Linked DNA regions of Homo sapiens: regions 2 and 3 are each reported to be linked to region 1. The links are microRNA targets in miRTarBase. Many come from high-throughput screens and were not tested one by one. Region 1 holds a microRNA gene; each other region holds the end of a gene's coding sequence. Distances are from middle to middle.

The links. The annotated mature microRNA hsa-miR-6740-3p reads UGUCUUCUCUCCUCCCAAACAG and lies in region 1 at 4,039-4,060, opposite strand. An mRNA with a match to its seed (bases 2 to 7 or 8) in the 3' UTR can be bound and repressed. Matches are read on the target gene's strand: a 7mer-m8 pairs with bases 2 to 8, a 7mer-A1 pairs with bases 2 to 7 and ends in A, and an 8mer does both.
Region 2: the mRNA of EDN2 is a reported target of hsa-miR-6740-3p. The part of its 3' UTR that is shown has no 7-base or 8-base seed match.
Region 3: the mRNA of CYB5R4 is a reported target of hsa-miR-6740-3p. Seed matches in the 3' UTR shown: 8mer at 2,083-2,090.

What each region holds. Positions count from the first base shown.
Region 1 is chr1:201,999,091-202,007,274 of GRCh38, reverse strand. It overlaps MIR6740 (microRNA 6740), which reads right to left and starts at 4,151; the gene lies at 4,039-4,151. It overlaps RNPEP (arginyl aminopeptidase), which reads right to left. Exons shown (of 11, transcript NM_020216.4): 6 at 7,260-7,373; 7 at 5,787-5,899; 8 at 5,508-5,616; 9 at 3,814-4,038; 10 at 2,779-2,921; 11 at 1,132-1,717. The coding sequence ends at 1,559. It overlaps ELF3-AS1 (ELF3 antisense RNA 1), which reads left to right. Exons shown (of 2, transcript NR_146472.1): 2 at 6,948-7,224. RefSeq lists an enhancer at 2,301-2,943.
Region 2 is chr1:41,472,442-41,480,625 of GRCh38, reverse strand. EDN2 (endothelin 2) reads left to right here. Exons shown (of 5, transcript NM_001956.5): 5 at 1,124-1,851. The coding sequence ends at 1,217. Among named protein-coding and RNA genes, the nearest start is that of EDN2, 8.1 kb to the left of the region's middle. RefSeq lists an enhancer at 2,988-3,694.
Region 3 is chr6:83,958,137-83,966,320 of GRCh38, reverse strand. CYB5R4 (cytochrome b5 reductase 4) reads right to left here. Exons shown (of 16, transcript NM_016230.4): 16 at 1-6,497. The coding sequence ends at 6,443. RIPPLY2-CYB5R4 (RIPPLY2-CYB5R4 readthrough) reads right to left here. Exons shown (of 18, transcript NR_174604.1): 18 at 1-6,497. Among named protein-coding and RNA genes, the nearest start is that of LINC02857, 59 kb to the left of the region's middle.

The DNA.
Region 1 (8,184 bases):
ATGAAACACACTAAATATTTCTTCCAACCCTCCCCTCATCCCACTCCCAAACCCAGATTGCTAACTGTTTAGGTCCCCATGTTGAGGCCAGGAAATCAGAATTTAGTGCTAAGTTCTAAAGACTTTACTGATTACCATTCAAATAGTTATCTAGGATCAAAGACAGGTGAGGCCCAGTGAAGCCTTGGGCATGGGCAGAAGGGTAGATAAAAAGTCATAAGACACTTTATTTTTATTTTTGAGACAGGGTCTCACTCTGTCACTCAGGCTGGAGTTCAGTGGCACAATCAAGACTCACTGTGGCCTTGACCTCTTGGGCTCAAGTGATCCTCCTGCCTCAGCCTCCTGAGTAGCTGAAACCACAGGAATGCACCACCACGCCCAGCTTTTTTTTTTTTTTTTTGAGAAGTCTTACTCTGTCACCCAGGCTGGAGTGCAGTGGCATGATCTCAGTTTACTGCAACCTCCACCTCCCAGGTTCAAGTGTTTCTCCTGCTTCAGCCTCCCAAGTAACTGGAACTACAGGTGTGAGCCACCATGCCTGGCTAATTTTTGCATCTATCTTTTTTTTCAGTAGAGATGGGGTTTCACCATGTTGGCCATGCTGGTCTCAAACTTCTGACCTCAAGTGATTTGCCTGCCTCAGCCTCCCAAAGTGTTGAGATTACAGGCGTGAGCCACCACGCCTGGCTTTTTTTTTTTTTTTTTTTTTTTTTTGGTAGAGATGAAGTCCTGCTATGTTGGCCAGGGTGGTCTCAAACTCCTGGGCTCAAGCGATCCTCTCGCCTCAGCCTCCCAAAGTGCTGGGATTACAGGCATGAGCCACCGTGCCCAGCCCATTTTTTTTTCTTAGTGATGGAAAAGATAATGGGAATGCTGCTGCAGATAGAGAATTCAGCTGCTTCACGGAGAACTGGAATGCTATTCCTTTTTCATTTTCCTGCACCAGCTGTGCCATTTTGCCATATTTTTTTTCATATGCATGTGTAGGACACCCACCTCCTTCACCCTGGCTGTTCCCTGAGGACAGGAAAATACTGTCATTCTCTGGGCCTCCCCCAGTGACCTTTCCTGAACAAACACAGTGAGGACCTCTGGTGGAAGAAATTTAATAGTCACTCAATCCGTAACTTAATTTTTGCTTGAAAACTTTATTAAAATAAGGATTAAACCTGAAAAAAGAACAATCAGAATGCCAGCCCTTTGCATAAAATCAGCAAGAAAAAGGACAGAAAGAGAAAAAAGAAGAGCATCAGTCCTCTCCACTTCTTCCCAGAGACTTAGGTGGGGAGGAGAATACCCGCTGCCCTGCAGTGCCTGCAGCCTGTAGCGGGGAGAGCTGTGGGCAGGTTCTCTGTCTCGGGGCTCAGTGGGCTATAGAGAAGTAAGTTCCCACCAGAGCAGAGGCCCAAGAGTCACAGATACCTAAGCTAGAGAATAGATTATCCTGAGGGGATATAAACTCCAGGAAGTTGATCAGGGAACAGGAATTTGGGAACAAACAATTATTCTGAAAGCCTGGAGAGCCTGAAGAGGCAGGGGCCATGCACACGAGCCTCTAACTGCCCTTGGGTGCCACGATCTGCTGGACATAGTTGACAACATTGCTGTGGAGCTGGGAGGCGGTGGATGCAAAAGTCTCCTTGGCGAGGGTCTGGGCCACCTCACTGCCACCCATCATTGCGTGGTACAGCGGAAGTGTATACTTCTGCTTCCCCTGCAAGAAACACACATACACATGCCTAAGAAGCTTGCCTGGTGGATCTGTCCAGCCCTGCTGCCCCCAGTGCCAGTCTAACAGCAGCCATGGCTAGGTGCTAAAAGGGATGTGGGCATCACAGCTGGAATGAGGAGCTTCTCATCAGAAGTGCTCTAATTCAGGCATCTTCTTGGGCGCCAGAGATCCATGGAGATGGATCTCAATACGCGTCCCAATCCATACTAACATGGGGACGTCTACAGTCAACAAAATGAATGAGTTGGGTGGACACAATGGGATTCCAGACTTCTGGAAAGGTGTAGGTGGTGAGCCACCACGTGAATAGCAGATATCAGCAGCTGCGGCACATAAAGCTCACAGCCGCATACGGTCCAGCTGCAGTCAAGCAAAGGAAAACCCACAGGTCAACCCACAGGTCAAATTCACACAAATATAAGCCAGCGACATCACAAGTTCCTAAAATCCAGAGCCTTGAGGAAGCCATCAAAGGGCTCAGAATATCCCCGAACAGGCAGGCAGCCCTGACTTTATGCAGAGCAATGCTTCGTCTCCGGTCCAGCCCCTCCCTGCTCCGGAATCTGATGACATTCAGTTCATCCTGAGAGCCCGGGGCCTTTCCCCAACAGGGCAACTTTCACATAGTGACAGAGGGTCTGGCTGCTGTCCCGATCATGCCCAAGTCACAGGGCAGCAGGGACCTATCCTCCAAGCCTTTGTTCCTCTTGCTCCGCCTCTGGCCCCTTTCCCTCTTGTGTTTCCCACATGACACTGTCACCCTCTTTCCCGCCTCTGCGTTGGCTCTGGCCAGCTTTTTTCCCTGGGGTCTCACCAGCTGAATTGCAGAAAGCACTGCAAGCCTGCAGGCCTCCTCTTGTCCCTAGGGCAATGCCTTCAAAGCCACACTAGTAAAGAGGCTGAGTGGTAGGGTCCTCAGGTCATTTGCCCCTCCCTCTGTGCCTCAGATGAGTCCTAGATGAGCCCTGCCCACATGATTACTTCACATATGGCCGAGTGGGTCCCAGTGTGCTTTCGGGAACAGCGAGGCAGGGGTCACCCACCTGGTTATGCAGGAACTCCTTCACTTTCCAGAAATCTTCCTGGTGGTCGTTCTTAAGGACGATTTGGCCCCATCGCAGCCGGAGCTCTGCATTCCGGGCATTTGAGATACTTGGGTATGTGTCTCCAAGTTTTTTCACATTCCCTGGAGAAGAGAAAGAAATGGTTTGTGGCTGGTCACGGTGGGTCACACCTGTAATACTAGAATTTTGGGAGGCTGAGGTGGGCGGATCACTTGAGGTCAGGAATGTGAGACCAGCCTGGCCAATATGGCGAAACCCCATCTCTACTAAAAATACCAAACAAAACTGGCCGGGTGTGGTGGCGCACGCCTGTAATCCCAGCTACTTGGAGGCTGAGGTGCTAGAATCAAGAATCACTTGAACTCAGAAGGTGGAGGTTGCTGTGAGCCAATAGCACCACGGCACTCCAGCCTGGTCGACAGAGCAAGATTAAAGCAGACATATTCCCCCAATATCTGTCCCATTTTTTCTCCTACCACTCATCTGCTAAAAGTCATCTTGGCTCTAACTTTTTTTTAACCCCTTGGTGAATATTATGTTGACTGAGCAGCCACAAAGCATTAGAGGTTGAGAGCTCTGGATGACTGGGTTCTGTGCGAACTGTTTGTACCTCAAGTTCATTCTGTCACCTGGGTATTAACATCACACCGCCTACTTCCCAGAGGAGTTGTGGGAATTAAATGACTTAATAGACACAAAAGCCTTACAAGAGTCGCCTGCAGGAGCTTCGGACTTGAGCAATGCCAGGCTTTGTGACTTTGTCCTTGAGGTGCTTGTAAGTAGAACCCATAACCTCCCGATGGCACATTCCTTGTGGAGTGCCAGCCTCCCTAGTGTACGTGGCAGTCCCCTAACCCATAACCTCCCGGTGGCACATTCCTTGTGGAGTGCCAGCCTCCCTAGTGTACGTGGCAGTTCCCTAGGGGCAAGCATCACTACTTTTTGTGAGCCTCCCTCTAGCCCCTGACATAAAGCTGTGCACACAAGGAGCCCTGGTTCACCATTTTTTCTTACCAGGAGGGAGAGGGGATTTCTGGAGGATCTTATCCAGGAAGTAGACCAGCTGGTAGGTCTTCCAGGGAGAGATGGCCACGGCTTCAATGGCCTTCATGTCCAGCTCCTCGGCTGCCCACAGTTGGGCTAGCTCTTCAGCAGGCTTCATGAGTGAGTCCCCAGGGGAGAGATCAGGGAGGTACGGGGGCCAGCCGGGGGTATTCAGCCATCGATCAAACTCAAAACCTGTTTGGGAGGAGAGAAGACACTATCAGAATTCTCTGGCCAGGTTACGGTCAACTGGTTTAAGCAACTCCCAGAGACCTCAAGTTTCTCCTCTCTCCATCCCAAACTCTTTCCCCAGCATTTAACATTACTTTCCCATGTAACTATTCGCTCCAGCAGGGTCCTAGTTATAACGACATCTAGAGACTGTGCCGTTTCGACCGTGAAAGTGCTTTTCGCTCCAAATTAGCACTGTGTTGTCAGAGCCAAGTTGGTGGATGCTCTATTCACGTGCACATTCTCCTACCGATCACAACCACACTGTACTTAAGCACCCAGGCTCTAGGACCAGGCTGCCTGGGTTCCTACCCCTGCTCTGTCATTAACCAGCTGGGAGGCCACGGGCATGTTACTTCACCTCTCTGCACCTCAGTTTTATCTATAAAGTGGGGGTGATAGGCCCTGCCTCCGTGATGGTTATGAGGATTACATGAGCAAATAAACATTAAAAGCTTAGCGTATCGCCTGATGCATAGTAAGTACTCTGGAATTATTAACTACCATTAGCTCCGGAGTCCCCGCATTAAAATGCAAGCCTCCAACCGAACAGTAGGTGCTGCTAAAGTCCTGACCAATCCTACTGTCAGAGGACGCGGACTTCATCAAACCAACAATAGAGTGACTCAAGGTTCAGGTCACAGCAAGAAGTGGGGGTATGTCTAATGGATTGTGTCTTCCATGACAGGACATTTTTCGTTTTTTCTTTGGAAGTGGTACCTCCCAGGCAGAAACTGGCGGCTGGGCACAGCGGCTCACGCCTGTAATCCCAGCACTTTGGGAGGCCGAGGCAGGTGGATCACCTGAGGTCAGGAGTTCGAGACCAGCCTGACCAACATGGAGAAACCCCGTCTCTACTAAAAATACAAAATAGCCGGGCGTGGTGGCGCGTGCCTGTAATCCCAGCTACTCGGGAGGCTGAGGCAGGAGAATCGCTTGAACCCGGCAGGCGGAGGTTGCGGTGAGCCGAGATCGTGCCATTGCACTCCAGCCTGGGCAACAAGAGCGAAACTCCATCTCAAAAAAAAAAAAAAAGAAAAGAAAAGAAAGAAAGAAATAAGGAGGGCCACTGGGGTTGCCTTCACTCAGAAGGCTGTAGGAGGGGTGCTGCCTCCGCTCCTGCCCTGTGAGTTTTAGCTTGGGGCAGTGGTGCGGCAGCAGTGGCAGCTCTCCAGGCAAGTTAAGGGTCTGACTGTGTGTCCAGGTGAGAGGAGAGAGTAAGGAAACAGACTGGGAGAAAATGAGGCAGAGAGGAGTGAAAAGAAGTCATTCTTGTGGAATAAATCCCAGGATTCTGGGTTTGCTTCCCAAAACGCCCCTACCTAGCTGACTCTGACCCAGTGTTTTCCCATCCACCACCATCTTTCCGAGTGTCAATGAGATCTCATTCTCTACTATTTTTTAGAAGCCTGTGGGCCAGTTCCTCTGCTTACCTGGAATGATATCCACTCTCTTTTTCTTAAGCTCAGGGAAATATTCCAAGTAGAAGTCCAGAAAGTCATCGGCTAAGATGCTTCGGAATTTGAATTCATGCACATAGGCCTGTGAGGAGGGAAAGCTCTTTAGACCCTCTCTGGCCCCGTGGGGAGTGGTGTCCCTCTGTGTCCTGGGTCCTCCTCCAACCCCTTACATCTTTCGCCCCCTGCCTCTACCCTTGATCAGGCCCAGTGGCTTTATCCGCTCCTCTTCCTTCTCCCCTCATGTGACTATACCTTGAGAAAACTGTCAAACTGATCCTGATCACCCACCAAGTGGGCCAGGTATGAAACAAAGCAGAAACCTTTCTCGTAGGGGGTCTCATTATAGGTGTCGTCCGGGTCAACGCCTGGCAGAGGAGAAAGCAGACAAGATTTGAGCTTTTGTAGCCTGTCACCCGTAACGTTCTTCTCTAGCTCCACAGTCAAAGACTAGCGATGGAAGAGATCAGAATTCAGCTTCCCCAGGGACAGCAAGGCCAAGAAGGTGTCCAGATCCTGGCCTCTCTCCAGATCTTGGACTCTCTCAAGGCCAAGACTCTCTCTCTTAAGATCTCTATCTCAAGGCCAAGATCTCTCTCCAGATATTGGCCTCTCTCAAGGTACTTCCAAGATCTCAGAGGGCCATTCACTGTGGATCTAATATGAAGACAGAGAAACCAGCCTTCCAGAGGAGCGGACACATTTCCTTAGTCCCAGGATACACTTTGTGTGGGTAGGTTCCATCAGCATTTCCCACTGAGCACCAAGCTGTGTCTTTTCCATCCCTATTGGTCACCACCTAAATACTCAACCTACCCTCCCAGATCAATGTTTTTTTTTTTTTTTTTTTAAGACGGAGTCTTGCTCTATCACCCAGGCTGGAGTGCAGTGGCACGATCTCAGCTCACTGCAACCTCTGCCTCCTGGGGTCGAGCGATTCTCCTGCCTCAGCCTCCCCAGTAGCTGGGATTACAGGTGTGCATCACCACACCCAGCTAATTTTTGTATTTTTAGTAGAGACAGGGTTCTCCATATTGGCTAGGCTGGTCTCGAACTCTTGACCTCATGATCCACCCGCTTTGACCTGGGATTACAGGCGTGAACCACCATGCCCAGCCAATGTGTTGTTTTTACAGCTGTTCCAGGCTAAAACTAATTACCCGTCTCTAAGAAATTCATCTGCAAACTTAACGGCATCAAGGAACATGAGCTTCAATTGCATAAAAAGGTTTCAGATTAGTCACACATGGAATGAAGGAAAATGTTAGGAAGTAAAAAGATCTGAATTTGGAGAGAGGACCCGGATCTCAGTTGCAGTCATGCACTGATTAGGTACATGACCTGGACAAGACACTTAACTTGTCTGGCACTCAGTCCCATCCTCTGTAAAATAAGGCTAATGCTTTTATTCTACAGAATCCACAGATCTGCCCTGATGATCATGAAGGAATGCGAAAGAGCCTGGTAAAACGATATGGACTTGTGCAAATGCAAAGCAATGGTGAAGTCATCACGAACCGCACAGACTGGACAGAACTCCTATCTGGCTGCAATGGCTTGGGTTCAGTCAGCCCAGGGGCCAGAGAATTGGCTACAAAGAGCTCTGGAGTGCCCCTCCCTCCAAATAAAGTATTCTAAGCGTGCACTGATCAACATGAAGTTCGCATTAACTTGGGGCTCCAAGCTCAATTGAGGGGAGTGGGTGTCAGACAGAGGAGCCTCCTGGACCTGGTTCAATCTTCACGCGGAGCTTGTTGAGTGGGTTTTCCTCTCCAGTGATGTCCATGTGCTGACGCAGCAGAGCCCGCCCCGTTGCAGCCTCCAAGCAGGTGTACGCAGCGCCTGGTGCAGAATCAAACGTAAGCCTCGGGAAAACGTCTGTCACCACATCCAAGTGTATTTTCCTGACAGAGACACTGTGCTGCCTCCTTGTGGCCTCAAGAAGAACAGCGACAGATACCTGAAGCTTAATAACATTACCCTCCTGGGGACCCAGGGCAAATAGGGACAGTTACAGAGAGCCTGACTCAGTCCCTAGCTCCCTGTTGCTGTGGGCTACAAAGGACTTGGTTAACTCAGGCTGTTGGTCTCTCTCCTAAGTGAGGACTGGGGGAATCGCACCTTTCTGACAGTTACCTTTCCTTATCAAAGTACTGTATTTTTATTTTATCTTATTTCATTTATTTTATTATTTTATTTTTTGAGACAAAGCCTCACTCTGTCACCCAGGCTGGAGTGCAATGGCGTGATCTTGGCTCACTGCAACCTCCGTCTCCTCCTGGGTTCAAGCGATTCTTCTGCATCAGCCTCCTGAGTAGCCGGGATTACAGGTGTGCACCACCACGCCCAGCTAATTTTTGTATTTTTAGTAGAGAGGGGGCTTTACCACGTTGGCCAAGCTCAAACTCCTGATCTCAGGTGATATGCCCGCCTTGGCCTCCCAAAGTGCTGGGATTACAAGCGTGAACCACCACGCCCAGCCCCCGGCCTTATTTTTAGAAAATGATTTGATTTTTTTTTTTTTTTTGAGACAGAGTCTCGCTCTGTTGCCCAGGCTGGAGTGCAGTGGCACGATCTCGGCTCACTGCATCCTCCACCTCCTGGATTCAAGCAATTCTCCTATCTCAGCTTACCAAGTAGCTGGGACTACAGG
Region 2 (8,184 bases), 160 Mb from region 1:
ACCTGCCGGGCAGCAGAGTGGCTGTAGGGGCAGCCTCTGGGGCAGACTGCTTGATCTGAACCCCAGCCCAGCCTGGTACAAGCTTTGTGACCTTGGGTTTGCCCCTCAACTTCACTGTGCCTCTAGTTCCTATGATTTGAACAGGAGAAACAGGGAAATTGTGCCATCCATCCCCGCCTGGGGTTGCTGTGAGGTCAGATGAGTGGACGCACATGAAGTGTGTAGACCAGGGTCTGTGCCCGTGGGAGCTGTGGAGGGGTTTGCCATTCCCACTTCTGTCACTGAGGGTTCCTCACAGCTGGCCAGGTCCCAGGGCCCAGCTCAGCCCTTCAGAGATTCTCACCTTTTGGGGGCGGCAGAAAAACAGGAGAAAAGGCAGGATGGTGGGATGGACGGGACCCAACATATACTTAGGAACTTTCTGAGAATGAAAAATATGAGTACAAGACTTTTCAAAAGCGCACACTTCATAGTGTGCAGAGCTGGCTCGGCCAACCTTGTACTCATTCTCAGCAGTTCAGGCCTGTTTTTGTTTTACAAGCTAAGAAAGGGGATCAGAGAGGCTGAGATTGTTGCCCAAGTTTCCTTAGCTAGGAACTGAAGCCAGCCTCCTGGCTCCCAGTTTAGAGTTCTTTGAGCCAGGATGTGGCCACCCAGCCAGGTTCAAAGGGCAGCGGGGTGCCCTGTTTTCTGGGCTGGACTACCTTGAACTGGACCTCGAAGAATGAGTAGAATTGTAGCAGGTGGCTTCTGGGTGAGGGGAATACACACAGCCTGGAGGGAAGAGCAGGAGCAAAGGTGTGGAAAGCTGTGGAAAGAAGTGGGAAGGCAGATGACGGGAGACCCACAGGGCTGTGCTTGGCTGTCCACTCATTCTGGCAGCATTTGATGTTGAACCTTAGCTCTGTCAAAGCCCCCATGTGCAGAGAAGCTTCAACGCCTGGGCTGGCCTGCGCTGGTTGTGCAGACCTTGTTTTCAGGCTGTGGTCACTGTCTGACCCCAGGGCCGCTGTGACCCCAGGATCTGGGCAAGGGCTGTAGCCCCATTGCCCCTGCTCTCATGGGGAGCTCTTGGACAGTCCATATCTCCTGAGATGCTAAGTTGACCCTTCTTGATTCCCAGGGACATTTCCACAGTCAAGAGCCTCTTTGCCAAGCGACAACAGGAGGCCATGCGGGAGCCTCGGTCCACACATTCCAGGTGGAGGAAGAGATAGTGTCGTGAGCTGGAGGAACATTGGGAAGGAAGCCCGCGGGGAGAGAGGAGGAGAGAAGTGGCCAGGGCTTGTGGACTCTCTGCCTGCTTCCTGGACCGGGGCCTTGGTCCCAGACAGCTGGACCCATTTGCCAGGATTGGCACAAGCTCCCTGGTGAGGGAGCCTCGTCCAAGGCAGTTCTGTGTCCTCGCACTGCCCAGGGAAGCCCTCGGCCTCCAGACTGCGGAGCAGCCTCCAGTGCTGGCTGCTGGCCCACAGCTCTGCTGGAAGAACTGCATGGGGAGTACATTCATCTGGAGGCTGCGTCCTGAGGAGTGTCCTGTCTGCTGGGCTACAAACCAGGAGCAACCGTGCAGCCACGAACACGCATGCCTCAGCCAGCCCTGGAGGCTGGATGGCTCCCCTGAGGCTGGCATCCTGGCTGGCTGTGTCCTCTCCAGCTTTCCCTCCCCAGAGTTCTTGCACCCTCATTCCCTCGGGACCCTCCCAGTGAGAAGGGCCTGCTCTGCTTTTCCTGTCTGTATATAACTTATTTGCCCTAAGAACTTTGAGAATCCCAATTATTTATTTTAATGTATTTTTTAGACCCTCTATTTACCTGCGAACTTGTGTTTATAATAAATGAGGAAACATACTCTGGTTTTTTGTCTTGGCCAAGGCAGGGTGTTGGAGGCTTCTCTCAAGAAGGGGCCGCTTGGAAGTTGGAGGACACAAGAAGGAAAGGGCTGGGGCAGGTGGCTAGAGCGCTGGGTTCCACTCCCACCCTTGCTGGGTGTCTCTGGCTGCTAGCCTGCCCTCTCTGGGCTTTTGTCTGTCATGTGCCTCGACAGCCACCTGCAGCTGTGACGTCAGGATTCCAGGAGCTATGTTCTCATCAGGCCAGTAATCAACGGCCATCCCTTTTCCAGGAGCGTGTGTGGAAGAAGCCAAGACACGAGGGTGGAGGGACTCATCGCCCCAGCGGCTCTGTCCCAGCAGAGGCTGACAGTAAGGCTCAGAGCAAAGCTGTCCAGCGAGGGAGAAGACCAGGTGAACCCCAAGGCTGTGGGTGCCCCACTGGTCAGTGAGGGGTGCTGTGATGGAGCCACAGCTTGGCCCTGGCTTGGCCCCTCACCTTGGGCTTTGGACATGATAAATACTTGCTGATTGAATTCATGAGTCACCACTGCAGTATGATGTTGAACAAATCTCTTTCAGTTTCTGAACCTCAGTTTTCTTCATCTAGAAAATGGGAAGCAATTGTCCCCACGTCGCAGAGTTGCTGTGGGCACTAAGCAGAGAAGTGATGGTACCAGGCTCAGCCCAAGGCCTGACAAGAGGCAGAGGCTGCTTGTGGGGCTGGCAATGGTGATTATGGAATGAGTGGGACGGGGACAGAACTAAGGGGCCTGATGGGGGGGCAAGATGGGGGCTAGCTGGGGTGGAGGTGGGTGGTCATAGGAAGAGTCTGGACAAAGGTGCTACTCTTGTGGCCTCAAAAGATATGCAAAATAAATAGAAAGACTCAAAAGAGGCCAGGGGTGGCAACTCACGACTATAATCCCAGCACTTTAAGAGGCCAAGGTGGGAGGATGACTTGACTCCAGCAGTTCAAGACCAGCCTGGGCAATATAGGGAGACCCTGTATCTACAAAAAAAAAAAAATGTTTTTAATTAGCTGGGTGAGGTGGTGCACACCTGTGGTCCCAGCTACTCAGGAGGCTGAGGCCAGAGGATTGCTTGAGCCCAGGAGCTCGAGGCTACAGTGAACTATGGTCGTGCCACTGCACTGCAGCCTGGGCACCACAGGGAGGACCTGGCTTAAAAGAAAAAGAAAAAGAAACACTCAAATGACTTGAATACATAGAAAGAAAATAGGGAGGGAATTCCAGGCAGAGGGAGCGGGGAGGATGAAAGTATGGAAGTGGGAGTAACAAAGAAGCTTCCTTAGGAGGGGCCTCAGGTGTCTGGACCATGGCAAGGGGGCAGCAGCAGGACACAAAGCCAGAGAGGCCTTGAAGGTCAAGGTTAGGAGCCTCGACTTCCCCTTGTGGGCCACAGGAAGCCACAAAGCTCTGTGAGCAGCAGGGGACCTCGGCAGAGCTGAGCTTTGGAAATATGCCACAGAGGGCTGGCCAGAGCTGAGTGAATGAGGAGACCAGTGGCAGAGAAGCAGTCATCATAAGTCCTTAGGGATCCTCCGCGCATCCTGGTGATGAGGCTGGTGTCACGGGGTCAGCCCAGGCACTTGTTGCCTACTCCAGCCCAGGGCCAGAGCGCACCTCTCACGTTTCAGCTGAGCTTGATGCCAGGGGAGCCTCGCTCCCTGGGAGTGCATCACAGGCTCCCATTCAACATGACCCTGCCCCTGAAAAACTCAAATGCAACAGCCCATGGCCAGGCCAGGCAGCTGGGTAAGGCAGCCTTAGGGCCGCAGCTATGACAGAGGCCTGGCAGCAGCATGAGGAAAACCTGGCGGAGGGTGTGTTGGAGGGAAGCATTCACCGCCCTTGGCACAGGCCCCGGGGACCCTGGCCAGGGTTCAGAGATCAGTGACCCAGATGATTGAGCAACAGAGATGATTAAAGTAGTAGAGGAGGCCCAGAAGGCAGGGACAGGTAAGGGTGACACTACAGTCCTTTAGACCCATACACCTTGGAAACAGGGGCCTCTGGCTGGGGCCCTGCACTGCAGGGGGGCCCTGTTCTGGCCCTCATCCAGCCATACCTCTCTATGGGACAAAAAGTTTGCAGGGCCACAGGGCCACATATGTCCGAAGTCTGTCCTTGCTTCCAGCCCACACTCCAGGTAGTTGGGACTTCAGCCATGTTGGGGAAGGTGGGCTAGAGTTTGGAAAGAAGTAGAGAAAAAGCTACAAGGAGCAGCTACCAGGTCAAACCGAACCCTGGGAAGAAGGCATCTAAGCTTCAGGAAACTTGGGTTTTCTGGGACAAAATCTCCCCTCCTCCTGCCTTTTCCATAAATATAGAACAAGCGTTTTTCAAGGCTTTTTGAGTCAAATTTGTGTTCCTTTTAACTGGAACACTAGGCAGAGACAGGCCAGAAGGGGGCACAGGATGACCCAGATTTATTCGGATTATGTGGACAGGAGGAAGCTGAGGCAGAGAGCAGTTAGGTCCTGTGTCCAGGGCTGTGAGGCTGCAGACGGGGCCCTTCGCAGCCTCTCCACAGCCCTCACTCAGGAAAGAGCCCTGTGGAATTCTCTCTCTCTCTCTTTCTCTCATTGAAAATAGAGTCCAGGTAGCTAAGTCTTCAGTTCAGAAAAGTCATTTGCCTAATCACGGTGACAAACTATTGGAATGTGGCCATCCATTAATTCAACAGTTATGAATAATCACCCCTGGGAGGACTCTCGTGAGCAAGACAGACACAGTTCCTGCCTCATAGGCCAAGAGGACAGTCATTCAAGAAAACAACAGTTAAATATGAAGATAAGAATCGCAGCAAACATTCACTGAGCACTTACTAAGTGCTTTCCACATATTAACTCCTTGGTTCCTTACAGCAACCTTATGTAGCAAATTCTGTCATTACTATTTCCATTTGATAGGAAAGGTTACTGAGGCACAGAGCGGTTAGTAACTTGCTCAAAATCATATAGCTAGGATGTGGCTTAGCTGGGTTTTAAACCCCAGGCTCTTAACTTCCGTGCTATCCTACCTCTCTAATAGGGTATGTCCACACTGTGATGGAGCCCCTGAGGAGGGGGAGCCCAGGGTGGCTTCCTGGAGATGGGGACATCTAGGCCAACTCGGGGGAAGTCGGTCAAGGAAGAGGGTGGAGAAGAGCATTCCAGGCAGAGGAAACAGCATAGGTGAAGGTTCCTGTCTTCATAGGAAGGGAGCTATTCCCAGCCTCTTTTGGGGAGTAAAAGGAGAGGTCCTGGGAACGGCTGGAAGGGGCAGGCAGGAAGGGGCAGTGCATGCCTGAGCACCAGACCAAGCCCCGAGCATCTGGCATGGGGGTGCTCTAGGAAGCAGAGGCCACCACCTCTTTCACCCCCACCACAGCCTCAGAAAATGCCTCCCTGGAAAATACTACCATGCCCAGCATGCCCTCCATGAGGGCTTCAGGCCTCTGGAAACCTCTCTGGCTGCCCGCTCAGGTCTCACAGCCTGGCAGGGAAGACAGACAAGAGCAAAACGAAGGTCCAGAGGTGGAGCTGGCCTTGTAGCTGGTGGGATGGGGGGTGAAGGACTGGCAAGGCTTGTGCAGGCTGGGATGAGGGAAAGGGCTTGGTGGGAATGGTGTAAGGCAGATCTGGCCAGGGCATGAGAGAGTCCAGGGAGGGGCAGCAGGCCTGATCAGCAGGGGCCAGGCTGGGAATAGCATCCGATGCCAGGAATTTGAACTTGAGTGATAGGTAGCCAGCGAAGGTTGCTAAACGAGGGAGAGCCAGGACGGGAGCTGGCCTTGGGTGGCTGGTTTATTGTTGGCTCCTTCCCGGCCAATGCTTCCAGCTCACAAGGGCCCTCCCAGCCCCTCTCAGGGGAGAGCAGAGTGTGGGCCTCGCCTTGGCCTGCCAGGGATCCAAGCCAAAAGCCCTCGGCAGCTAAGAAGGGGGCCGTGTGCGGGCCCGCCAGGAGCCCTGGAAGAGGAATGCAGCCTAATTAATTCTCTGCAGCTCACAGGGCCTCGCCTTGTGGGAGCAGCTGCCAGGACAGGCCTGCCAGGATGCCACTGGCCCAGCCTGTCGATCACTTGGTGCTGAAAGCAGCGAGGGGGACTGCAGGCTGGGAACTGGGGGACGGGGACTCGGGGGGCCAGCCCCTGCCTCCAGGCACACACGTGTCCTCCAGTCCCTTCACAGCTAATAAAACAGTCATAGTAACTGTAATAGCCAACAGGCCTTGAGGCTGTCAGAGCACCAGACTCTGCCAGTACACTGAGTACTAGTGAGAACATTGCATTCACTTTTCTTACAAGAAGTAAGATAAGTGTTGCTCTCATCTCCATCTTGCAGATGAGGAAACTGAGGCTCAGAGAAGCGAATTTCCCTGCCCAGGGTCATGCAGTTAGAAAGCAAAAGCAGGGAAGCTGGGATGTGGACCCAGGCAATCTGGGCCCCCAGACTGTATTAATCATAACCACCATGCTAGACTGGTTCAGCAAGGGAAACTGAGGCCCTGGGGAGGCGGGGTGTCTTTCTCAAGGACAATTGGCTTAAAAAGGGCCTGGGGACACTGGCTGGATGGGGAAAGGCCATGCCCCTGGCCTCTGCTTGAATTGCCTCCTCCTGAAGTTTCCTTCCCTGGCCTGCAGGTCCCCCTGAGGGATGTCTGGCTCACTACCTCCAGGCGAGGCAGGCTGTGGAAAGTGATCCTGTCTCTGGGGTCTCTACCTATTTGGTCCTAGTTCCACTGCCTGGGGCCTGTCACAGAAGCACAGTACCAACATTACCCAAGGAGTCTCAGGCTAGTCTGCACATGCTCAGAGAATCCTTCTGCAACGCTATGACTCCCTCCACAGGCAGGACACTGAGGCCAGCAGAGGCTCAGAGTGGTGCAGGAAGGTGCTGGACCAAGACCTTGCCACTAGAAAGTGGCAGAGCCTAGGCGGGCTCCAGAATAGCCTGATGCCAAGACCCTGCCCTTCCCTGACAGCAGACCGGAAGGAGGGGCAGAACATCCATGTCATGCTGCCTCTCCGAGCCTCAGTTTCCTCATCTGCCATATGGGGATGAGGAGCCCAAGGTTACAGGATTGTCCTCGGGTTCATTAATAACAGCCAACACTAAAGGCACTTAGTAGATGTCAGATACTGTCCTAAGTACTTTATTTAATTTTTTTTAATTTCCAAAACCAAAATTTTATTCATAGCTACATAATACATCATGATACAGCTGCCCCATAAAATACCATATGTGGGCATGTATTACCCTGTAGGTGTATATTTAAGTTTGTCCAATTTCCCACTGAAGAAGATCAGAACGTGCCACCCCAAATATGCCACTTTTGCATCAGGATTGTTTTGAGCTAAAGGCAATTAAGAAACTGCACGTGTAGAAAGAGCTCTTTGCCCTCCCACATCTGCCCAAAAGCGGGACATAAATTTTCCTTTGGGAAGATTCTTCTCCTTCCCTCTCTTATAGCAGGAAGAGAACAACCGTTAGTTAGCACTGAAGACAAAAAGTCAGTAAGAAGACGAGTCTGCACAAACCAATCTTGCTGAAATCACCCTGATCTTCCATTAATTTCCCCACATATTTATCTTCCCACAATTTGCCACCCCTAGGAACACAAAGCCCTTTTCCTTTATCTTGTCATTTCTCCACAAATGTATCATCCTTTGTTAAAATGGTAGGGGGCTTATATACCATTTTAACAAAGGGTCTTCACTTCTTTTCTATGAATGCAATCAATGCCTTCATGTACATCACAATTAAAGTAGGAACATCAAATAAAATCTGTATGCCTTTTCTCCTGTTCATTAGTCTTTTGTCAGTTTAATTTGCAAGCCCCAGTCACAGTCTATAAAAGGATACAGGAAAACAATTTTTTTCCTCCCCTACACCACCAATAAAATAACACTGTGTGGTACACTTGTACATAAATTTTTCTATTTATTCCCTATTTATTGTTTGGCTACATTTTAAAATTGAGATATAATTTATACACTATAACATTCACCCTTTCAAGGCACACAATTCAGTGGATTTTAATCCTCACTTAACATCGTTGATAGGTTCTAAGGGACTGTGACATCAAGCGAAATGTTTTTCTCATCAATGTAACGACAAAACTCCATTGAAGGAAACATTATTCGAGGATCTACTCTACATTTCTTTCCCGCTAAAGTCACCATTTCCAAGAACCTATCAACAACGTTACGTGTGGATTTATTGTTTTCACAGAGTTATACAAGGATCACCACTGTCTCGTTCCAGAACATTTTCACCACCCCAAAAGGAAATCCCTTACCCGTTAGCAGTCACTCCCTTTACCCTACTACCCCGCTCCCAAGCCCT
Region 3 (8,184 bases), not on the chromosome of region 1:
GTCTTAGTACCCAAAAACATTTTTATATCTTTACTGAGATATGGTTCAAATTAGATACAATTCATCTACTTAAAATGTACAATTCAACATTTTTAGGTATATTCATAAGTATGTGCAACCATAACCACAGTAAACTTCAGAATATTTTAGCATTTCAAAAACACCCTCCCAACCCTTTAGTTATTATCCCCTATTCCTGTATCCCCTGAACAGCCACTTAATTACTTTATGTCTCATAGATTTTCCTGTTCTAGACATTTCATAGGAATAGAATCACTGCTGATAAAGACATACCCAAGAAATTAAGCCAAGAAAAAGAGGTTTAATTGGACTTATAGTTCCACATGGCTGGGGAGGCCTCAGAATCATGGCGGTAGGTTAAAAATACTTCTTACAGGGTGGCAGCAAGAGAAATGAGTAAGATGCAAAAGCGGAACCCCCTGATGAAACCATCAGATCTCATGAGACTTATTCTCTACCATGAGAACAGTATGGGGGAAACCACCCCCATGATTCAAATTATCTCCCACCAGGTCCCACGTATAACACATGGGAATTATGGGAGTATAATTCAAGATGAAATTTGGGTGGGGACACAGAGCCAAACCATATCATCCCACCCCTGGCTCCTCCAAATCTTATGTCCTCACATTTCAAAACCAATCATGCATTCCCAACAGTACCCCAAAGTCTTAAATCATTTCAGCATTAACCCAAAAGTCCACAGTTCAAAAGTCTCATCTGAGACAAGGCAAGTCCCTTCCACTTATGAGCCTGTAAAATCAAAAGCAAGCTAGTTACTTCCTAGATACAATGAGGGTACAGGTATTGGGTAAATACAGCCATTCCAAATGGGAGAAATTGGCCAAAACAAAGGGGTTACAGGGCCCATGGAAGTCCAAAATCCAGTGGGGCAGTCAAATTTTAAAGCTCCAAAATGATCTCCTTTTACTCCAGGTCTCACATCCAGGTCACGCTGATGCAAGAGGTGGCTTCCCATGGTCTTGGGCAGCTCTGGCCCTGTGGCTTTCAGGGTACAGCCTCCATCCTGGCTGCTTTCATGGGCTGGTGTTGAGTATCTGCAGCTTTTCCAGGCACCTGGTACAAGCTGTAAGTCGATCTACCATTCTGGGGTCTGGAGGACAGTGGTCCTCTTCTCACAGCTCCACTAGGCGGTGTCCCAGTAGGGACTCTGTGAGGGGGCTCCAACCCCACATTTCCCTTCTGCACTGCCCTAGCCGAGGTTCTCCATGAGAGCCCCGCCCCTGCAGCAAACTTCTGCCTGGGCATCCAGGCATTTCCATACATCTTCTGAAATCTAGACAGAGGTTCCCAAACCCCATTTCTTGACTTCTGTGCACCCACATGCTCAACATCACATGGAAGTTGCCAAGGCTTAAGGCTTTCACCCTCTGAAGCCATGGCCTGAGCTTCATGTTGGCCCCTTTCAGCCATGGCCGGAGTGGCTAGGAAACAGGGCACCAAGTCCTTAGACTGCACACAGCACAAGGACCCTAGGCCTTGCCCACAAAACCATTTTTACCATTTTTTCTTCCTAGACCTCCAGGTCTGTGATAGAAGAGGCTGCCACAAATGTCTCTGACATGCCCTGGAGACATTTTCCCCATTGTCTTGGAAATTAACATTCAGTTCCTTGTTACTTATGCAAATATCTACAGCCAGCTTGAATTTCTCCTCAGAAAATAGGATTTTCTTTTCTATCGCATTGTCAAGCTGCTAATTTTCTGAATTTTAATGCTCTGCTTCCCTTTTAAAACTGAATGCCTTTAACAACACTTGAGTCACCTCTTGAATGCTTTGCTGCTTAGAAATTTCTTCCACCAGATACCCTTAATCATCTCTCTCAAGTTCAGAGTTCCACAAATCTCCAGGGCAGGGGCAAAATGCCGCCAGTCTCTTTGCTAAATCATAACAAGAGTCACCTTTGCTCCAGTTCTCAACAGGTTCCTCATCTCCACCTGAGACCACCTCAGTCTAGATTTCATTGTCCATATCATTATCAGTATTTTTGTCAAAGCCATTCAACAAGTCTCAAGGAAGTTCCAAACTTTCCCATTTTCCTGTCTTCTTCTGAGCCCTCCAAACTGTTCCAATCTCTGCCTGTTACCAAGTTCCAAAGTTGCTTCCACATTTCCCGGTATCTTTGCAGCAACACCTGCTCTACTGGTACCAATTTACTGTATTAGTCCATTTTCACGCTGCTGATAAAAGACGTACCTGAGACTGGGGAAAAAAAGGGGTTTAATTGGACTTACAGTTCCACATGGCTGGGGAGGCCTCAGAATCATGGCAGGAGGTGAAAGGCACTTCTTACATGGCGGCCGCAAGAGAAAATGAGTAAGATGCAAAAGCGGAAACCCCTGATAAAACCACCAGGTCTTGTGAGAGTTATTCACTACCATGAGAACAGTATGAGGGAAACTGCCCCCATGATTCAAATTATCTCCCACTGGGTTCCTCCCACAACACATGGGAATTATGAGAGTACAATTCAAGATGAGATTTGGGTGGTGACACAGAGCCAAACCATATCAGGATGTTTGGGTTGTTTCCACATTTTAACTCTACGTGTAATGCTGCACCCAAGATAATGCTTCCATTCCATGAATGGGGGATATGCATCAAAAGAGAACTTTAACAAAGAAAGTAAACTCATTTTTGAATTTTAAGATCACTTTGGCATTCTGTTTTGAGGTCTGCTAAACTTGCAATGCTGGGTGAAAATGACTTCAAAATAAAACCAATGTTGAAAGACACCAAGAGACTGTAACTACTTGAGATTCCATTTTTCCTTTATAATTTATTTGCCACAATGTTAAATACTGTAGATCATACAGAATCTGTTTTTTCTGCCCAAAAATGGGGGTCTGTTATCAACAGACTCAGCCCCAACCTCGTTCAGGACAAGCTTGTGTGGTTCAGAAGGTAGATCACAGAGCAGGTTGTACCCATGCCTTTGCCAGCATAATGAAGTTGACTCTTTTGGGGTGGGTGTCAAAGCTCCTCTCATGTTCTGTTACATTAAGGTAAAAACTGAGGGCCCATAGCAAGGGCCCCTATCTAGACAAAACCTAATCATCTTATCTTGGACAAATTTCTCTGTTCTTTCTATAGCCTGTGGTAGACACAATGTGCCCATCAAAGATGTCAACACCCAAATGCCTGCAACCTTTGAATATATTATATAGGAAAAGGGACTTTACAGCTATAATTAAAATTATAGATTTTTAAAATAGGAAGATTACCCTGGATATCTGGATAGGTCCAATCTAACCACATGAGATCTTAAAAGCAGTGAACTCTTGCTAGGGCAAGAAAGATATGGCAGAAAGGGAATTCAGAGAGATTGAAAGCATAAGATTCATCTACCAATGCTGAAGAAGCCCACAAGGGAATTCAGAGAGACTGAAAGCATGAGATTCATCCACTAATGCTGAAGAGGGCCACACAGAAAGTATGAGAAGGAATGTGGGCAAATTCTAGAAACAAAGACTAGCCCACAGCTAACAGCTAGCAAGGAAATGGGGAACTCAGTCCTACAACTGCAAGGAACTGAAATCTACCTAATGAGGCTGAAAGAACTCTTATCTAGGGACTTCCCCTTACAGCCTCTAGCTAAGAGCCCAGCTCAGCTGACAATCTGATTACAGCCTTGTGAGGCTTTAAGCAGAGGACCCAGTTGAGCCATATTGTGCCTAGATTTCTGTGCCATGGAACTGTGAGATAATAAATGGGTGTTGTTTTAAGCTACTAAGTTTGTAGTAATTTGATCTAGCAGCAATAGAAAATTAATAAACTTTTTTTTAAAAAAAGCAGAATTTGCAAGCAAATGTGACTTTGAGCGTAATTCTTCTTCACTGCAAATATGTGATGTAGGAGTCTTTGAGTTATTTGCTTGAGAATAACAGTGATAAACTATACTCCTATCTGTGCTCCTCAGTATTTGGTTGCATTCATTGGAAGACTGAGGCTCTACTTAGGGGATTTTTTCCTCCAAGTCCTTCTAGAATACCCTGGAATGGAGAATGAATTTTAGGAGATCAGGACTGCAGCATGAAGATGAATTATCAAGCTACTGTACTAATCCAGCTGAGGGATGATAGGACAGGGTTAGCTGGTATGGAAGAGTCAGACTGGAGAAGGGGACATTGATGTTGATTCCTAATAGTTCTAGAATGGCTTACTAGGTGGATGGTGGGGTGGTATGCAGGAAGTAAATGGATATTGAAAACTGAAGCTCAGCTGATTCTCAAATTAGTCACTCCCATTTGGGAATTAACATGTAAGTTGATAAAATCATGTCAGTGGAGATTACCCAGGAGACACTTATGGATTTGTTTTAAAATATAAACAAAATATAAATATAACAAAATATAATAAAATATAACAAAATATAAACAAAATATAAATAAAATATAAACAAAAATATAAAACATAAAAGGAGGAATGAGGAAGCATTACATATAGCGACTAATAGGAGATTCTGTTGCTTGGGAAAGGAGAGAGAAAAAAGAAGAGGCTTAGAAAAGATGAGAAAGATGTTGGCTAAGTTAGATTTGATACATCGCAAATGAACTAAAAAAAAGTGGTAAATAGTCTCTTTTTATATTAGTCTATTTTCACACTGCTATAAAGAACTACCTGAGACTGGGTAATTTATGAAGAAAAGAGGTTTAATTGACTCACAGTTCTGCATGGCTGGGGAGGCCTCAGGAAATGTACAATTATGGTAGAAAGCAAAGAAGAAGCAAGGACCTTCTTCATAATACAGCAGGAGGTGGGGAGGAAGTGCCACACTTTTAAACCATCAGATCTCATGAGAACTCACTTACCATCATGAGAACAGCATGGGGGCAATCACTCCCATGATCCAATCACCTCCCACCAAGACCCTCCCTCGACATGTGGGAATTACAATTTGAGAGGAGATTTGGGTGAGGACACAGAGCCAAATCACCTCACCCTTAGATGGAAAAAAATAAGTAGGGGGAAGGCATGAAGCTAGAAAAAGTTCTTGTTACCTACCAGGGAACAGTACCAGTCCAGGACAGCTAGATTCCTGTCTTTGTGAATAATGATGATGGTGGAATTGGCTACAGAAGACAGAGGCACAGGAAAAAGTGATAGTGTTCAACCAGCCATTTGCACATAGGAAGCTTCACAAGCTGGGCGTCTGTAATTTGGGGAATATTAATATTGTGTTCCTCTTGAGTATATTATTCATTCAGCAAAGATTTAGCTGTTTACAAAATCATTTACAGAGAAATTGGAGACTCTTTCAATCCCCTATTTCTGTGAAAACATTGCAGCTGTACTAAGACTGAAAAATCCTAGTTAGCTTATACAGTAGCTACCTATGCATTCAACAGTTTCCTCACGAAAAGCTCACAATGACTATCCTTGATACCCTTTGCTGATCTGAATCTGTGAAAGTATTTGACAGTTGCACAAAGCAGCAGGAAGAGAAAATAAGTTGCCCACATGCAAGAACCTAAGAGGGCTTCCTGCTGAACCACCAGTTGTGGAGAAAGCAGCCAACCAGGGGAAGAACCATTCAAGGCAGAATGTTCCTCATTTTTCCAGCTGATTTAGATGGACTAAAGAATTAAAATTCAACCCATTCCAAAGCACCAAATAATAACTTTATGCTGTGGAACTAGACACTATACTTTCACTCTCTTTCCTAATGTCTTTGTTTTTGGCTAAGAGTAAAAATAGCTGTCAAGGTTCCCTCTCTCAAGCTCTGTTAACACACCTAGTCCAAAGGCGCATGTGTGTCATGTCTCTAATATATTTTATTGCTGCCTTTTAAAATTCCCCTTGAGACGCTGGCCCAATATTGTTGCATTCAACCACATTTCTACCACAAGGATTAAAAAGAACTTAAGTATAATTTTATTCTATTCTGCATCAATGCCATACACACACAAAAAAATGTTTGGATCACTTAATAAGTTATAACATTCTATGTTTTAACATTAATAACAAGGACATAAATGATCATTTCCTGAGTTAACAGTGCAAGGTAAAATTTAATCTGTATTGCTAATAAGACATTTTACAGCATAGAAACATGATCGAAGTGATCATTTACTTTATCATGTCATAAAACACAAGTGCTTATTGTAGAACAGTGATATAATTTAAATGGCAAGGAAATTTGTGATTCATAACAAAGAATCCTGTATGTATTTGTTGCCATGATTAACTTTCCAGGTCAAATATCAGTAGTAAAATAAGTTGTGGTACAAAAGAAAGCCAAGAAGTTACCTGTACTGAAGGAACATTTGATTTCATTTAAGAAACTGAAGGCTGGATTCTAGTTAACCTTTTGTTATGTACAAAAATGTTCTCTTAAAAAACCCTAAGCAATCACAAATTTAGATAAACTAGTTGAATAAAGGACAATGACAGCTCTTCATTATGCTGTAAAACTATGGATCTCATTTTTGGAAAAGTTGAGATCATGCAGCAACCTGAAAAACAAATAAAAAGCACATGTTTCTTAGGGAAAATGCTTTAAAATGAAGAAATAAGAGCAGTTTACCACCATAATCATGATACTTTTTCATTTTCCCCATTCACTATGTAGTTTTTTTTAAATAAAAAAACACTATCACCTCTTAAAAAATTAGTGATTAGTAACTCCTAAATATCATGAAATATCTAAGCAGTGCTCAAATTTTCAACTAGCTCATAAATGTCATAATTTTAAAAAATAGTTTCAATCAATAGCCAATTAAAATTTACTCATTATGATTGGCTGATAAGTCTTTTAGGCATCCTTTGATCTGTAAGATCCCCCAGACCCCCACTCCATCCTGCAATTTATTTGTTGACAAAAATCAGATTTTTATTTGTTGAGTCTCCTAAAACCTTCATTTTTCTACATCCCTGTGGTATTCCTTAATAATATGTCTTTATGTCCTCATATTTTCCATAACTTAATATATGGATCTAGAGGCTTGATCAGACACAGGTTCAAATCTTTTTGACAAGACTATTTCACAGGTAATGTTCCTCTATCTGGAGGCATGTAATAAATGGTTGCCTCTCTTTTTGAGTGCTAGCTACCATTATGATCTATGTATAGATCCATTAGTTCATTAAGCACTGCAATTGGTGATATTCTACTTCTATCATTCTTTATTCATTAATCAGCTGAGGAATCCTATAAAGAAAAATGTCTGCTCATTTATTATGTGATTATTCAGTAGTATGGCTCATATAACAAAGGGAGAATAAATGTTTGATTTTTTTCCCCTTTATTCACCAGTTTTCAAAGAAAGGAGTTGATTCCCCTACGATTCTATCTTCATTCTCCCCCTACTGAACAGGAAAAGCAGAAATACTGCGTATTGTTCAACTAGGAAAATAGTATAATAACTACTTTTTTACCACTTACTCTATTATAAATGTCACTTTGCTATGCACTTCACATGCATAGGTATTATTATTTATTCATTTTTATAGATAAGTGCACTAAAGCTTAGAAGGGTTAAGAACTGCCCTAGGACACCCAGCAAATGATTGTAAGATGCTTGTAAGTGGTAGACCTGGGATTTAAACCCCAGCTGGCAGCTCCCAGAGGGCATACACATACTCACACAAAGGGCCAGTAGGGCACAGGAGTTGAAGCCAACACAGTGCAGCAGTAAAGCCTCTCAGTATCTGGGCCCATGCTACCATTCCATCCTGTTCTCCCAGGCAAGCAGCTTCACTCTAGCCAAACCAGTCTAGTCTTTTGTATAAATCTGCACCCCTAATGCATCTGCCAGTTCTCCCTGCCTGTACTATCCCCTTCTCCATCTCTCTTGACTGGTAGGTTTTAGTCCACATGCTGTGCACATGACTTTTTTGACCATGCAGCTCCTGTCTCTCCAACACACACATCGCTAGGTAAAAGTAACCCATCTCTCCCGGAATTCCTGTAACATCTTGATTTTATCTCTAGTAAGATATTTGTGGTGTTCTGAGTCATACTTTGGTTATCAGCACGTGCATTTGTTTCTACCACTAGATAGTGTGGTCCTGGAAAGCAGAGACTGTTTTACTAACCTCTGTAATAAAGTACATATTTAATGGATAAAGAACCATTATTGGCCAAGTAATGATAAGCTGCTTATCTGTATTTTTTAAAAAATAGGTTTCTGAGTCTTTCTC